Linked DNA regions of Homo sapiens: region 1 is linked to region 2. A link means that fine-mapping ties the variant in region 2 to the expression of a gene that starts in the linked region. Tissue or cell type: whole blood. Region 2 holds a variant in brackets; the other region holds the start of a gene. All regions are shown on one strand. Distances are between the middles of the regions.

Evidence for each region. PIP is the estimated chance that this variant, and not a neighbour inherited with it, causes the effect.
Region 1: it holds the start of ZNF469, and the variant in region 2 is fine-mapped to the expression of ZNF469 in whole blood (INTERVAL, PIP 0.98).

The regions. Positions count from the first base shown.
Region 1 is chr16:88,379,376-88,387,475 of GRCh38, reverse strand. It overlaps ZNF469 (zinc finger protein 469), which reads right to left and starts at 4,517. Exons shown (of 3, transcript NM_001367624.2): 1 at 4,222-4,517. RefSeq lists enhancers at 5,158-5,701, 6,246-6,790.
Region 2 is chr16:88,025,685-88,033,784 of GRCh38, reverse strand. It overlaps BANP (BTG3 associated nuclear protein), which reads right to left. Exons shown (of 14, transcript NM_001386991.1): 8 at 6,135-6,302; 9 at 540-676. Among named protein-coding and RNA genes, the nearest start is that of BANP, 78 kb to the right of the region's middle. RefSeq lists enhancers at 2,653-3,154, 6,075-6,645. The variant T/C (reference allele first, on the strand shown) is at 3,452.

The DNA of each region.
Region 1 (8,100 bases), 350 kb before region 2:
CCGCAAGCAGCCAAGGGGGTGGGGCATGCTTTGAAGAACATCTGGAGGCTGTGCTGACCGCGGCCCGAGTCCCCCGGCACCCGGGGGTGGGTCCTGCCCGCCGCTCCCACCCCGCCCTGAAGCCAGCCTGGTGAACCCAGACCAAGGGGGGAGAACCGGGAGTGACGTGGACTCACAGGAATGAGGGGGCTGGACGGCCGATAGCACCTGAGGAGGGCCAAGGCCGCAACCCTCCGGCCACTGAGGGCAGCTTCCGCAGGCACGCAGGATGGGGTTGCAATGGAAGGTCCTCAGGGGTGCGGACGGCGTCCGCACCTGACCCAGGGCTGCCGCGGGTCTCTGGGTGTCTAGCACAAGGCGCTCCCCTGGGTGGACACAGTCTTGGAGGTTGGGGAGGCCCGACAAGCAGAGTATAGACTGGGTGCCGACGTGCAGTGAACAACCTGCCCAACTGTACTGGCCCATCTTTCCTTCTACCCAGGGAAATGGAAGTCCTTAGCTCTGAAGTATACGATTGCAGCCAGTCCCTGAGGACAGCATCTGCCACCCCCACCATGACCACTGGCAAATGATGAGCACGGGGAGGGAGTGGCCAAAGAAACAGGCCCTGAGCCACCTCAAGGCTACTTCACAGAGCCCCATCCTCACGGAACCACCCACTGCCTTCCACCACGCTCTGTCCAGCCCCCAGCATGTAGCAGGTCAGCTCCATCAGAGAACGAGGCTGGCTCATGGGGTTCAGTTGAGAGGCCTGGGACCTTAAAGCCACTTGGAGACAGGCTTGACCTGGAAGCGGCTGGTCTCTCGAGGTAGGTGGATGGAGCTGTGTCTGGAAAGGAATCACTAGAGGGCCCTGGATGTGACGGGACCCTCCGAGTCACCGGCCAGCGCCTGCTGAGCCCGGGGAGAAGGGATCCGGCCTGAATAGGGCCCCTTCGTCAAGGGGGATGGCCTTGCAGGGTAGATGGGACACCAGTGATGGGAGGTGGGATGCAGGATGCGTGAGGGCAGCAGGGAGAGGAGGGGTGTTCCCACGAGGGTGGGGGTGATGTCTAGGGGAGAAGGGCAGGCAGTCGCCGGTGGAGATGGGGCGGGACGGTGGGGTCCCGGGCAGGAGGCGGGAAGAGAGAACACACATCCTGAGATGAACCCATGAGGACCCTTATCAGGGAGTCAGAACAGGGCTGGACTGTGGCCTGGAATGCAGGACCCGAGCATGGCCACCGCCCACAGTGAGCAGGAGGACGGGCTGGTCACACTCTCCCAGGTCTCCTCCCCACCCTGCAGGTCTAGAATGAACCAAAGCAAGGGTGGGCTGGCTGGCCAGGAGGGAAAATGGGGAAGGCGCTGGGAAGATGGGGAGGGCGCTGGGAAGAAGATGGGGAAGGCAGAGTCCACGGGACCGGGCCGCTTGTGCCTCACCGGCATCCCTGCTCCCTATGGCGGCCTCCATCTGGGCTTTTAGCTGGCACCTTGCACCACTCAGGTCTTTCTTGTCCTCAGAACCCTCTCCACAGGTCCCACGGAGTCTCCTGAAACCCATGGGCTGCAACCACAGCAGCTGGTACCTACCAAGTACTTGCAGTGTGCCAGGCCTGTGCCAGGGTGCTCCACACACCAGCCCGTCCCACTGACCCCTGTGAGGGCTCCCCATTTTTCTGATGAGAAATAAAGTCCCAGAGGGGTTTGGTCACTCACCCAAGGCCACACAGCCCCTAGCAGCTGTTCCCAGAGCCTGGACTCTTAACTACTACACAGGCATTCCCCACATCATCAGCCCTATGTTTGGACAAGGAGGCAGGCAGGGTAACAGAATTTTTTTTTTTTTTTTTTGAGACAGAGTCTCACTCTATCACGCAGGCTGGAATGCGGTGGCACGATCATCATTAACTGCAGCCTTGAACTCCTGGGTTTAAGCAATCCTTTCTCCTCAGCCTCCCTAGTAGCTGAGAGTACAGGTGCACACTACCATGCCTGGCTAACTTACTTCAATTTTTTTTTTAGTAGAGATGGGGTCTCACTATGTTGCCCAGGCTGGCCTCAAACTCCTGGGCTCAAGTGATCCACCTGTCTCAGCCTCCCAAATTGCAGGGATTACACAGCCACCATCCCCGGCTGGTAACTGAATTATTAGTAGGAGTCAGAACCGGAAGGGAGGGTAGGGGGCTTGTCTTGAAACCATCTGGGCTCCAGATGAGTCCACCATGGCCTGATATCTAGGGCACTATCGGTGGTGACAAGACTCCAGGAGAAAGGAGGGGAGGGCATCTCTGCTTCCAGGCCACCCTGGTGTTCAGGTTTACTTCCGTTCAGCAAACACGAGGAAAGGGCAGAAACCCACTGAATTTCTCCCAGGGGAAGGTGGCAGGATGGGGCCTGACCAGGAATGTCAAGTCAGAAATGACCTGAAGAGATTAGGCATACAGGGGGAGACCATCCCTATTAAAATTATCCAAAGGCAGCCATGTGTAACAGCTGAGCAGATGTGCTGCCTGCTGCCTCAGGATGATGGACCAGTGCATTCCAGCTGGTAGGACTGCAGGAATGGCTGGAACAGGCTGCTGTGATGGGGAGTGAGTTCCCGGTCACTGGAGGTATCCAAGCAGAGTCAGTAACCTGGAGGCAGGGTCTGGTGGAGACTGAAGCGCTGATGAGGGGGTTGAAGTTCATGACCCCAAAATTTCCCTTGACCCTGAAATCCTGGGACTTCCTGGTTTGCACACTGCCCAGAGCTGCCAGCCTCGGGGCATTACAGCCACACACCCTTCACCTGTGCCTCCCAAGCTGAGACTCTGCGGGGCCCCTGGGTTCCCTTTGAGAAGGCCCTGGCCTTCCTTTTTGCCTCAGATATCCTCTTCCTCTTTTCTATTTGCAGGGCAGAATGATCACCTCCCGGTGAGCTCTGTCCTGTGGTCTGGGACCTGCCAGGCGCATGGCATGGAAGACACGTCTCCCAGGCCACCTCCTCCGAGGGTGCCTGGCTGCCCTTCCTAAAACTGCAGCTCCGCCCCAGCTTCCGAGCTCCCTGCTCAGCCCTCACGCCCGACGCTGTCCAGGCATTTACCTGTTTATTTTGTTTATTTTCAGGAATGCAGGGCTGTGGGCTGTGCTGGGGGCACCTAGGACAGGCTGGGCACTGAGAGGGCCTCAAGACACCTTTGTCCACCCGACCGGCAGAAGGGAACTAGACTTGCTCTTGGCAGAATGGGCAGGGGCTGTCCACGACACTACCGCGTGCTGTGCTCACTTCCCAGCATCAGCCCACTCTGACCATCAGTTTCTGCATCTAAGACTTGGGTTAACACGGATCTCAGGACGTAAGGATTAAACGTGATAACACGTGGCACACTCCCTATGCCCAGCATGGCTCACGGCTGGGGATGAAGCAGTTAACCGCCTCCGCTGCAGGAGCGGACTTGGCAGCTGAGCTGCCCCCCCGCCCCCGCCGGGGACCTGTCCCTCTGCCCTCGGCCCAGGGTGCAGGGACAAGGACTGGGTGGCCGCGGGAGTCCCCCGAGCCCCATTGGCCTTCCCTTCCGGCCGCCGCCACGCGGGGCGCCGCGTCCCCACGGGTCTAGACGTCCAGCCAACTTCCCGGCTCTGCAAAAGCCTCTGGGGGTGCGCGGGGCTGGGCGGGGGTGCGGCGTGGTCTCCCCCAGGGTGGGCTCCAAAGCTCCCACCCCCGTCCGGGGCGCTGACACCGCCGACTCGCAAGCCTATGCCGCGCTCGGAGCGCCGCGGGGCCAGCACGCCCGGGCGGGCGGCCCGGAGGAGGCGGCGGCACGGCTGGGGCACCCCCGGCTCCGATCCGCGATGAATGGGGCGGCCCGGGCCCCGCTCCCCGCAGCCCCGCCCGGAGGTCCCGCTCCCCGAGCCCCTCGCTCCGCGGCCCTCGCCAGTACGTTGCCCGGGCGCTTCCCAAACTGCCCACGGAGCCGGACCCCGCGCTGCCAACGCTCCGCTCCGGGCAAGGCTGCGGCCCCCGCCGGGCCCCGGCGCTCGCTGCCCCGCACGTCCGGGCCCGGGAGGAGGAGGTCGGGGGAGCCGGGCCGGGCGCCGCGAGCGCTGGGAGGGTCCGGCCCCGCCGGGGAGCGGCCCCCGAGGGCGCAGGAGCGGGAGCCGGGCCGGAGACCCCCGCGCAGCCCGGTGACACCCCCGCCCCGCGTTCCAGCCCGGGGTCCCCAGGCACCGCGCGCGCCCAGGCGGCGCATCCGCACTCACCTCCGCTCCGAGGCCCGCTCCGCCCGCCACGCCGGCCGCCGCCAACGAGCTCCCGGCCCGCGCCGCCCCAGCGCTCTGCAGCGGAGGCGCCGTCCTCATCCCGACCGCAGGCCCGCCCGGGCCGCCCGCCCGCCGGGCACCGAGCCGCTCTGCCGCGCGCTGCGCCTCGGGGCGGGGTGGGAGGAGAGGGAGCAGCCGCCACCCTGCCCAGGTCGCCGCGGGCCAGCCCTGCAGCCAGCTCCAGCCCTGGGCCGGGTGCTGGGAAGGCCGGACGCCGGCCGGCGGCCGCGGGGTCTGCCCCCCGGAGGCTGGGGCGGCTTAGGTTACAGACTCCGCCGCCCCCGCACCCTCCCCCCAGCTATTTTTAGCGCCGCTTTTCCTAGGTGTTTGTTTCATGGGACCCACCCCGGCGATGGGGGGCCCTGAGGCATTGCTCCCTGAACCCCCTCTTCACACTCCCCAGCCAGCCCACCCCAGAATGGCAGGCCTTGCTGCTGAGACGGAAACGCTGCATTCAGCACAACTTAAAAAACGTCTGCCATAATGCTACCCATGTGGCTTCCAGTGGCTGCTCTATCTCCATCCCTGGCCTGCGCTCCAGCTCCCCAGGTGCCCACACATGACACGCTTGTCCCTGTGCTTCTGTCTAGGAGGTGGGGGATGTCCCGACTGGCACCTGGCACCTGCCTGGGCAAGTTCGGTTTGAGTGGCTCAAGTTGGCCCTCGAAGGCACCATAAGGAGGTCCCCATGGCACGCTTTCTCATAGGTGGGAGCTAACATTGCCCCCAGACCTTCGTGTCTCCACTCTGGGTCCCTTGTCCAGCCCTGGGACTGCCCCAGACTGGCCCGTGAGTTCGGCAGCATTGCTGGTGGGGCGCTAGGAGCCATCCAGGCCCCTAGAGAGGGAGAGGCCCTTACCGGTCATTTGTCCAACATCTCCATTCACAGCCAAGGAAACCAAGGCCTGAAGAAGACAAGGAACCTGCCCAAGGCCACACGGCGGAGATGGCTCCAGGCAGAGCCCCCTGGCCCAGTACGTGCCCGTCCCCGGCTGTCCCAGACAGGGGCGTGTGGGCCTCCTCCAAGGGCAGGGGTGCAGCGTTACGGGCAGCATCTGGGGACGGATCGCCCTCCCCCACTTCAGAGGATCCCAAGTCATGAACTTGGTGGACTTCTAAGAAATAGGGTGGCAGTGGGGGGACTTCGCAGAAAGGAATGCTTTCAGAATTAGTCCTTCAGACAAAGGTCCCCCGGGAGCAGGTCAAGCACGCTTTACTTACGCAAGTTCAAGTTGCACACCCTTTTAAGGACACCTTTATTATGTAAAGCAAGGTGTGGCCTAACCACGGGCCTTCTGGTGGAGCCAATGAGTGGGCCTGCCCCTCCCCCAATCTGGTCTGCCTCCTGAAGCTGTTTTGGGACTCTGCGAACGGTATAGAATAAACTAAAAGGAACTGCACATGGCAGTGGGGTTTCTGTGCTGGCATCGCAGCACATGGCATTCCTGCCAGTGGACGCGAAAACGTGAATTGAAAAAGGGGCAGGGGCTGAAAGGCCCCAGAGGCTCGAGGCTTGGCTCACATTTCCATGGCATCATCTGGGGCCTCCAGGTCCTGGGATCTCCCTTTCCATGGAAAATGGGGAAGAACTAAGAAACCCTCTCGAGTTAATCAGGATTTCAATCAAGCGGGTTTCCTAAAGTTTCAAGGGCCAGGGGTCCCCTGGCTGTGGACAAAGACCCCAGAGGGCGTTTCCTTCCTTCTCGTTTCTACTGGGTCTGTTCTTGTTTCTAAGAAAGACTTCAATTTCCAAACCCGTGTGTGTGTGTGAGAGAGTGCATGTCTGTGTGTGAGTGCGTGTGTGTGAATGCATGTCTCTGTGTGTGAGTGCATGTGTGTATAAGTGTGTGTCTGTGTGCGAGTGCATGTCTCTGTGTGTGAGTGCATGAGTGCATGTGTGTGAGTGCGTGTGTGTGAGTGCATGTCTGTGTGAGTGCGTGTGAGTGCATGTCTGTGAGTGCGTGTGTGAGTGCATGTCTGTGTGTGTGTCTGTGAATGCATGTGTGTGAGTGCATGTCTGTGTGTGAGGGCGTGTCTGTGTGTGAGTGTGTGTGTGAGTGCATGTCTGTGTGTGCGTGTGTGCGAGTGCATGTCCGGGTGTGTGAGTGCGTGTGTGAGTGCATGCCTGTGTGTGAGAGCGTGTCTGTGTGAGTGCATGTGTGTGAGTGCATGTCTGTGAGCGCATGTGTGTGAGTGCATGTCTGTGTGAGTGCATATGTGTGAGTGCATGTCTGTGTGTGAGGGCGTGTCTGTGTGTGAGTGCGTGTCTGTGTGAGTGCATGTCTGTGAGTGTGTGTGAGTGCATGTCTGGGTGAGGGCATGACTGTGTGTGAGTGCATGTGAGTGCATGTCTGTGTGAGTGCGTGTGTGTGTGTGTCTGGGTGTGTGTGCATGTGTGAGTGCATGTGTGTGAGTGCATGTGTGTGAGGACGTCTGTGAGTGCATGTCTGTGTGTGAGTGCATGTCTGTGTGTGTATGAGTGCATGTCTGAGTGTGAGTGCATGTGTGTGAATGCATGTCTTGTGTGAGGGCGTGTCTGTGTGTGTATGAGTGCATGTGTGTGAGCGCATGTCTGGGTGTGTGCGTGTGTGAGTGCATGTGTGTGAGTGCATGTCTGTGTGAGGGCGTCTGTGTGTGAGTGCATGTCTGTGTTAGTGCGTGTGTGTTAGTGCGTGTGTGTGCATGTCTGTGTGAGTGCATGTGTGTGTGCACGTATGTGTGAGTGCATGTGTGTGTGCATGTCTGTGTGTGACTGTGTATGTGTGAATGCATCTGTGTGAGTGCATGTCTGTGTGAGGGCGTGTCTGTGAGTGCGTGTGAGTGCATGTCTGTGTGTGAGCGCATGTGTGTGAGCGCATGTGTGAGTGCATGTGTGAGTGCATGTCTGTGTTTTAGTGCGTGTGTGTGTGTGCATGTCTGGGTGTGTGAGTGCACGTGTGTGAGTGCATTTGTGTGTGAGTGCATGTCTGTGAGTGCATTTGTGTGTGAGTGCATGTCTGTGTGTGAGTGCATTTGTGTGTGAGTGCATGTCTGTGAGTGCATTTGTGTGTGAGTGTGTGTCTGTGTGTGTGTTTGTGTATGAGTGCATGTCTGTGAGTGCATTTGTGTGTGTGAGTGCGTGTCTGTGTGTGAGTATGTGTGTGTGTGACTGCATGTGTATGCATGCACACAAGTTCTTTTCCTAGCCCTGGGGCACCTGAATGCCGCCTGGGCGTGAGAAATGACAGAAGCCCTCACTCAGAGTCCATGCTCACAAGCATGGTGACAACAGGGGATGACCCTGTACCCACTCCGGGCCAGTCACTGTGTGAAGGACTCTGACAACCCCGCGAGGTGGGACTGCCTCTTCCCTTTCACAGGGAGGACTAGCAACCTGGCCAAGGCCCGCGGCACACCTCCCCTGTCCCAGAGCCACCGTCCACCCCTTGCCTTGTCCCCATGTTCCACACCCACCTGCTTTGACTAACCCAGTGGCAGCATCAGGAGTCACTTTGGACTGTTACAACTGGGAGCTACCTCTGGCATCTAGCTGGGGGGCAGGGGCTGCTGCCACGCCTCCCCAGTGCACAGGAATCATCCTGCCCCAGGTGTCAATGGCGGGAGGTGAGAATCCTGGTATCAGCACCCTCCTGGGGGCAGCTTTGCTCCAGGCTTGGCCTCCTGATTCCCGTCCCTCCCCTGGCCTGGCCCTGGCAGCGCCTCTTCCCCCTCTTCATAGCCCTCAAAGCCATCAGAGAGCTGAAAAGGAGGGCCACGTCCACCCCTCCTGGAAGGAGTTGCCTGATGGGGTGCTCTGCAGGGAGCAGGGGCTGGGAAGGT
Region 2 (8,100 bases):
ATAGAGAACTCCGCACGGGCAAGGCAGGACATTGACTTGCTGCTGGGACAGTGCCCGCCCAACCTGGGTGTGCTGAGTAACTCCAAGGGACACGCTGCATGGGAACAATGACCTCAAGCTTTTGCCACTGATCCTAGAAGGAAATTACTCTTTCCCTCAGTAAGAGAGCGCCTGCACTTCTGAACTGAGAAATATTTCCGATGTTTCCCAGGAGCACGAGCTGGGGCAGGGACCACCGCACGGCCTGACCCTTGGAGCTGACTGCCCGCCTGCCTGCTGGCAGGACTGAGGTGAGCTGACTGAATGCCCCACCCCACCATGTGCTTCAATCCCTAGGCTCTGCAGCAGCCGCCCCCACCTGTGAAATGTTAAGAGCTCATGGCCACGATGACCTCTACTTTAAATGGGGACCTTGTGCCTCCTCCCAAGCTATCACTGTGCTCCCAAAACACAGCGGAACCGGTGGAAGCCGCCATGGCCCTGCCGTGGCCCACCCCGCAGCCCCCTTTCCCAAGGTGTGAGGTGGAGAGGGTACGTACTACTTGCACCTGTCCGTCTTCTCCGATCTGGTGGATCTGCACCTGCTGTGCGTTGGCCAGCGCGTAGTGCAGGGCCTGCGGCTGCGGCTGTGGCTGCGGGAGCTCGCTGGCAGGAGGTGGGGTGCTCATCATCGGCTCTGTGGGGGCAACAGGTGTGAACGGGGTGAACGAGAAGTTTCTTAGGCATTGCCTGGTGTGGCATGTGTGCACCCCCGTCCCCCACTGTCGACTCCCACAGCAGAGAAGAGGAAATGCTTCATTTTTCCTCGACTCACTGCATCTCCACTCTTCTGCAGAGATCACTACCAGTGAGTCTTAGGAACTGAGGCTTCCGACATGGAATGCAAAAGGGCCTGAGAGTGGCGTGATGCTGCTATGACAAAACCCCTTCTAGTCCCCAACTTATTTAAATGAATGAAGTTCTTAAAGTGGACATTAAAAGCTGTTTCAGGCTGGCAATATTTGTCCATGGGTAATTAAACTAATAGAGCAAAAGTCTCATCCGCACACTTAAAGATACATTTCCAACAAATTTTACTTGCTGTGTTTAATCAAAATGAGATACATTTGCTTTGATGTACTGTGTATTAATTTTCACTGTAATGATGTCTCAATCATAATTTTCTTAAACTCTCAGAATATTAAGAGCGCAGAAAAACTTTTTAATTTTCAATGTATACACGTAGTTTTGTTGCAGAGAATTATAATGACTAATTTTAAAAAGCTTTTAAGCATAAAAATGTAGTCCGGACACGGTGGCTCACACCTGTAATCCCAGCACTCTGTGAGGCCAAGGCAGGTAGATCACCTGAGGTCACGAGTTCAAGACCAGCCTGGCCAACATGGTGAAACCCCATCTCTACTAAAAATACAAAAATTAGACAGGCGTGGTGGTGGGGGTCTGTAATCCCAGGCACTCAGGAGGCTGAGGCAGGAGAATCACTTGAACCTGGGAGGCGGAGGTTGTAATGAGTCGAAATGGCACCACTACACTCCAGCCTGGGCAACAGAGCGAGACTCCATCTCGGGGGTACAGGGGAGGGAAGCAGTAAGATGAAATTCTGTGAGAGAAGTAGAATGTTGATATGAATGAAAGGAGAAAAATGAAAGACATAAAATTATTGATTATTAAAGAGAAGCGGGCCAGGCGCGGTGGCTCACGCCTGTAATCCCAGCACTTTGGGAGGCCAAGGCGGGCAAGATCACTTCAGGTCAGGAGTTCGAGACCAGCCTGACCAACATGGTGAACCCCGTCTCTACTAAAAATACAAAAATTAGCCAGGTGTGGTGGCACGCGTCTGTAGTCCCAACTACTTGGGAGGCTGAAGTAGGAGAACCACTTGAACCTGGGAGTAGGTGGTTACAGTGAGCTGAGATGGCACCATGGCACTCAGCTCCAGGCAACAGAGCGAGCGGGGGAAGGGACGGGGAGGGGCAAGAGAGGGGAGGGCAAGAGCGGGGGAGGGGAGAGAAAAGCTTTCCATGTATTTTTTACCAATAGCTAATGGTAGGTATTAAATTGCCATAGTACCTAGATTCCACTGAATACATTTTTTAAAGTAACAATAAAATGTTGGGTTTCTTTTTTTTTTTTTTTGAGAGAGAGTCTTGCTCTGTCACCCAGGCTGGAGTGTAGTGGTATGACCTTGGCTCACTGCAACTTCCGCCTCCCAAGTTCAAGCGATTCTCCTGCCTCAGCCTTCCAAGTAGCTGGGATTACAGGCACCCACCATCATGCTGGGCTAATTTTTTTTTGTATTTTTTTGTAGAGAAGGGATTTCACCAGGTTGGCCAGGCTGGTTTTGAACTCCTGACCTCAAATGATCCGCCTGCCTCAGCCTCCCAAAATGCTGGGATTATAGGTGTAAGCCACTGTGCCCAGTCACATTAACAGAATGTTGATACTTGCAATATGCTAGAAATTGCCTAGCTACACTAAATCAGAATCTGAAATTCATGAGATTCAAAGGAGATTCAACAAGCCCACCTGCATGCTGCATGTGGAGAGCTCGGCTCCAGCCAAAGACCCTGACTCCACCTGAGCACCTCCAGTGATGGGTCATGTCCCAAAGCAACCACCGCCAGGCAGTGCTGCGTGCTCCACGGCGGCTTCCTGTCTGCCTGAGCAGTTACGGAGCACTCACCACCACAGGTCCTCGAGCAAGCCTTGTGCACCCCAGGAAGAAAATGACAAAATCCCAGCTGGGCTGAAGCCCACCTCCGCGGAGCTGCTGTTCCTCCACTGACCCTCTTAGCACCTACAAAACCAGCCTAATTCTTTACTTATGCGCTACTTCTCCAGGCATCTAAGCATTATCAAACCTTGTGAAATCTCCATTTCTAACCGTTTCCCCAAAGACAACGGTTTCCAGCCCACTGCCACCATGACAGTCTGTCCCTGGACAGCTTCTCCCAGCAGCTCCAAAACACTCCACTGGGGCCACAGGGCAGACAAGCAAAGAATGGGTGTGCTCCAGAGTGCACCTTGCAACCACAAGGGCTCCGAGGAAGCTCCTGCCTACCAGCGCAGCCAGCAAAACACTCGGCTTCACACGCTGTTGCACCACCGTCTACTCCTGTGCAAATGCTCTGAGTCTACATTTCCAGCTGTGACATTTCAGCTCATTAAATGTACTCTTTCAAGATTCTGGTATCCTAATGACGCAGGCCAACATATCTGGCAGTCGTCAGGTTATATAACAGCAGCTTCTTGCTCACTAAGGTCCTGGCAAGTCATTTAACTTGGGTTTTCATTCCCCATTGGATGAAGCAGACCGCTAACCTTACCAAATGCACGTACCCGAAACACATGGAAGGCAAGCCTGGCAACAACTCTCCTCACTCTTCGAGTCTAGGAGTTCCATACGGTTCTTTTTTATGTCTTCTATTTCTCTCCTTGCTATGTTCCTTTT[T/C]TCCTTTAAATTCTTGAATGTAATTTTAATAGATTTCAATGTCCTGGTCAGTTAATTCCAGACAGGGTCCCTTCCTATTTGCTGATTTTCTGATCATAGGTCACAATCTCCTGCTTCCTGCTACTCTGGACTAGATACTGGAGATTGTGAATTTTACTTTGTTGGGTGTCTAGGTTTTGTTGTCTTTCTTTTAAAAGTGTTGTTACTTGTGGTTCAATGTGATCTTTCTCAGGCTGTCTTAAGCTCTGCCTTTATTCTAGGGATAGTTTAGCCTGCCAGTAGGCATGGCCTGCTAGTGCAGCGACTGATCACTGAGGACTCCGGCCAGTGGGAATCCAACCACCACCCAGCCTGGGGTGAGCTTAGGAGCCATTGAGCTCATGCCTGCCTTGGAGTCCCCCAAACACCCAAGAAGGCCCCCGTGTAACCCTCTGCTCTTAGGAACTTGATTCCACAACTTTCTGCTGCCTCAGCCTCTCTCAACTCCAACCCATCTCCTCCATGCAGTGATGCAGGTGTCTCTGCCCGGTATCTCCCTGTCCCCTCCTCTCATGTTCCTTCTCTCAGGATCACGGTCCTGTGCTGTTGCTTGTCTAACGTCTTAGGACAGCCGATTCACAGACACAAATTTTGTCCAGATTTCAATGGCAAGAGAATTCAATCTGGTTCCTGCTAGTGTGCCTGACAGAAACCTCCTCTCCTTGACTTTTTTTTTTTTTTTTTGAGACGGAGTCTTGCTCTGTAGCCCAGGCTGGAGTGCAGTGGTGTGATCTCGGCTCACTGCAAGCTCCGCCTCCCAGGTTCACGCCATTCTCCTGCCTCAGCCTCCCGAGTAGCTGGGACTACAGGCGCCAGCCACCACGCCCGGCTAATTTTTTTGACACTTTTAGTAGAGACGGGGTTTCACCGTGTTAGCCAGGATGGTCTCGATCTCCTGACCTCATGATCTGCCCGCCTTGGCCTCCCAAAGTGCTGGGATTACATGCGTGAGCCACAGCACCCGGCTTTTTTTTTTTTTTTTTTTTTTGAGATACAGTCTCGCTCTGTCACCCAGGCTACAGTGTGGTGGCATAGTCTCAGCTCACTGCAACCTCTGCCTCCTGGATTCAAGCAATTCTCCTGCCTCAACCTCCCAAGTAGCTGGGATTAGAGGCATGCGCCACCACACCTGGCTAATTTTTGTATTTTTAGTAGAGACGGGGTTTCACCATGTTGTCCAGGCTGGTCTCAAACTGCTGACCTCAGGTGATCAGTTTGCCTCAGCCTCCCAAAGTGCTGGGATTACAGGCATGAGCCACCACGCCTGGGCTCCCTGACTTTTAAACATTTTTTACAACTATAAAACTAATGCAGTGCTTATTGGAAATAACTGAGAAACTACAATGAAAGACAAAGGGAAAAATAAAAATTATCCTACTACCTAGAGACAGGCACTGTAAAAATGATCACACATAAATTTTTAATCAACTTCCACATATACCTATATATTTGCAATAAAAATGGTATCATGCCATAAGTATAGTCCTCACATCGCTCTCTGCTGCCTAGCTATGAATATTCAAGAGCAGAATTCAAGTCATGCGCAATATTCCTACAGCCGCATTTCAATAGCCACAGGTTACGCTGCTACATGGTATTTCAGTGAATGCCCTTAACCCACACCCCAGGACTGCTACCTCTCTCAAGTCCCAAGGCAGAATTCCTCATTGTAGTAGAAAGGCCTAGAATAGAAGAGCTTCTTCAACACAGGTCACTCAATAAAGCGCTGCTTTAGGGACACAACTTGTGTGGCCCACTACAGGCAGCCACCTCCCATCCTCAAGCCCCTGGGCAGCAGCTGAGGCCGAGTATCTGATAACTACCAAAACAGCCCGAGAAAACCACTTCCTGAAGTCCGGTTCAGAAAGAACCAGGCCCCGGGAGAACTCCAGGTGATCTGGTCTGCAACTCCCAGGACTTCCAGAACAAAGGGTTCCCGCCAACAAAGACTCCACTGAATAGGAGAGCTGGCCCTGCCCACGGCTGCCCTCGCATCCTGACCCCAGCCCCAGTCACAGCTCAAGTTCCAAGAGTCGCTGCCAATGCAGCTACTGTGGGGAGCTTTAAGAGAATAGTTTTCATTCAAATACTTACTAAAATATTTTGAGATGTCTTGGGTGAAAGGCAGTATCAAGTCACATTGTCATTCCTAGTGAAAATTCTCCAAGGAGAACAATCCCCCCAGCGATGCCTGAGAGGCAACTCAAAGAGAACTGTTTCCATTATCTTGTGGATAAATCCAACTAAGGCCATGAACTCAAAGCAAAAATAAAGCATAATTCAGAATCCACCCCACTTCTTCACCCGGAGTCACCCGGCAAATCGTGAGAATACAACGGCCGGCAGCCCCACGCAAAGGCCTCGGCCTCCTTGCCCCCATCCAGAAGACTTCCGGGAGGCCCAACAGGCCCTCTGTCCCTCACGGAGGAGCCTGGAGCAGGCCCGAGGCTGTCCGTGTGAAGGGCGCACGGGGCCAGGCACAGGTCCTGCGGCTCCACTGCTCCGTGCGCACCGCGCAAGCCTCTGGCCTCGGCTCCCGGCCACTGGTGGAGCCGCTGGCCACGCACTGGCTGCCCCTGAGGGTGCCACCAGGCCAGCTGCCCCGAGCGGGGGAGGGCGGCCTCTCCTGCAGCACGAGGCCTACCTGAAGGGCAGTAGGAGGACGAGTTGGGCGTTCTCCGCGAGAAGCTCTTGACCGCCAGGCTCTGGCCCCGCTGCTTGCGCCGCCACGCCGTGCGGCACTTGGAGTCGATGCTCTGCTTGATTCGGTACCAGTCGGATTCTGTGATGCCAAATTTATAGAAAAGGTGACCTGGAAGGACACATCCAAGGAGAAGCGGTGAGGCCTGTTCGGGACAGCCACCAGGAGCTGCCTGGCTGCAGGGCCGGGGCCCGCTGAAGAGGCCTCACCCAGGCACCCCAGCCCGCCAGGCCGGCCCCGTCTTCCTGCAAGGGTCTGGAAAGGCCCACTGCACAGAAGGTGCTTAGCTGGCCCACAGGCGGGGCTCCCCACGAGATATAAATGCTCACTAAGGTGTCATGACACACTCTTTCCATTTACTTAACTTCTCGATCCCTCTGACTCGGTCGGCCCACACCAGGTGCACACTTGGGGCTCTCACAAGATTCCCAGACCTTCCACGCCCCAACTTCCCTCTGCCCTGAGCTCACAGCAGCACCCAAGGTCCTGAATGCCCAGAGGGTGAGATCAGGGACCTCAACAATTGGATCAGAACTCGCTGGTCCTCTGCCTACTCGGGCCTGCTCGGCCACCGCCTTCCCTTCCTTCATGTCCTGGCTTCACCATCCCCCTGGATAACCACCTGGCCCTCCCGCCCTCCTGGGCTCCCACCCTCCTCCCACTTGTTTTGTCAGAGCACTGACCACCTTCCGGCATTTGGAGAATTCATGTGTGTATTGTTACTCTGTCCCCCTCACAAACACAGTTTCGAAAATTCAGGTGTGTATTGTTACTGTTCCCCTCGCAAACACAGTTTGGAGAATTCATGTATGTATTGTTACTCTGTTCCCCTGGTAAACACGGTTTGGAGAATTGAAGTATGTATTTTTGTTACTCTGTCCCCCTCATAAACACAGTTTGGAGAATTCAAGTTATGTATTGTTACTCTGTCCCCCTCACAAACACAGTTTGGAGAATTCATGTATGTATTGTTACTCTGTTCCCCTGGTAAACACAGTTTGGAGAATTCACGCATGTATTGTTATTCTGTTCCCCTCGCAAACACAGTTTGGAGAATTCATGTATGCACTGTTACTCTGTCCCCCTCATAAACACAGGGGCCTTTGTTGTGTCCACCCATGGGGGTCAGGCACCCAGAACATTCTGGCGCACAGTGGCTGCTCCTGTGTAAATAGTGATGACAACGGACTGCAAGACACCCTCCCATCGCTGCTCAGGTCCGGGGCTTGCTTATGTCATTCCCGACGCCTCTCTATCGTGCCTTCTCAACTAGAGTACAAACTCCTTACGGGCAGGGCCTGTGTCCTCATCCCTGGAGTCCCTATACCACAAGCCGAGTGGGCACAACCTACTCTCACTGTGGGGCCAAAGCCAGGTGCATCGTCTTCCTGGGGCTCACCGTGCACACGCAGAGAACTGTCCTGGGACCCCCAGTTCTCTACCACCTGCGCTACGGAGAGCTCTCAGCACGCCCTGAGCAGCATCCAGAGATGCCCTGTATTCAACAGGGAGAAAACTGAGGATCCGAAGGCCACGGCGGAGCAGGTGACAGGAGGGAGCCAGCGCCCCACTGCACGCCCGGCCACTTCCCACTAGGCCACAGGACCCCATCCCTGTAGCGATGACGAATGTGGGCATGATGGGAAGGGCTCTTCAATGCAGTGGCCTCTCTAGCTGGCTCATGCAACTTCACTAATTTACAGGAAAATACATGGATGGAATCCAAAATTGTAGTAATAAAAAGATTAAGCTGAAAAGTGTCCCGTTTCAACTACCAAGAGCCTCAAGTTCGGACTCTACTGCCCAAACCCTAAAAATCTGTTCCCATTGAGACTAAAATGGTGGAAATAATTAAAACAGAGGAAGAAGTGTTTGGGTTTTTTTAAGTACTCGATTAGGTATCAAAAGT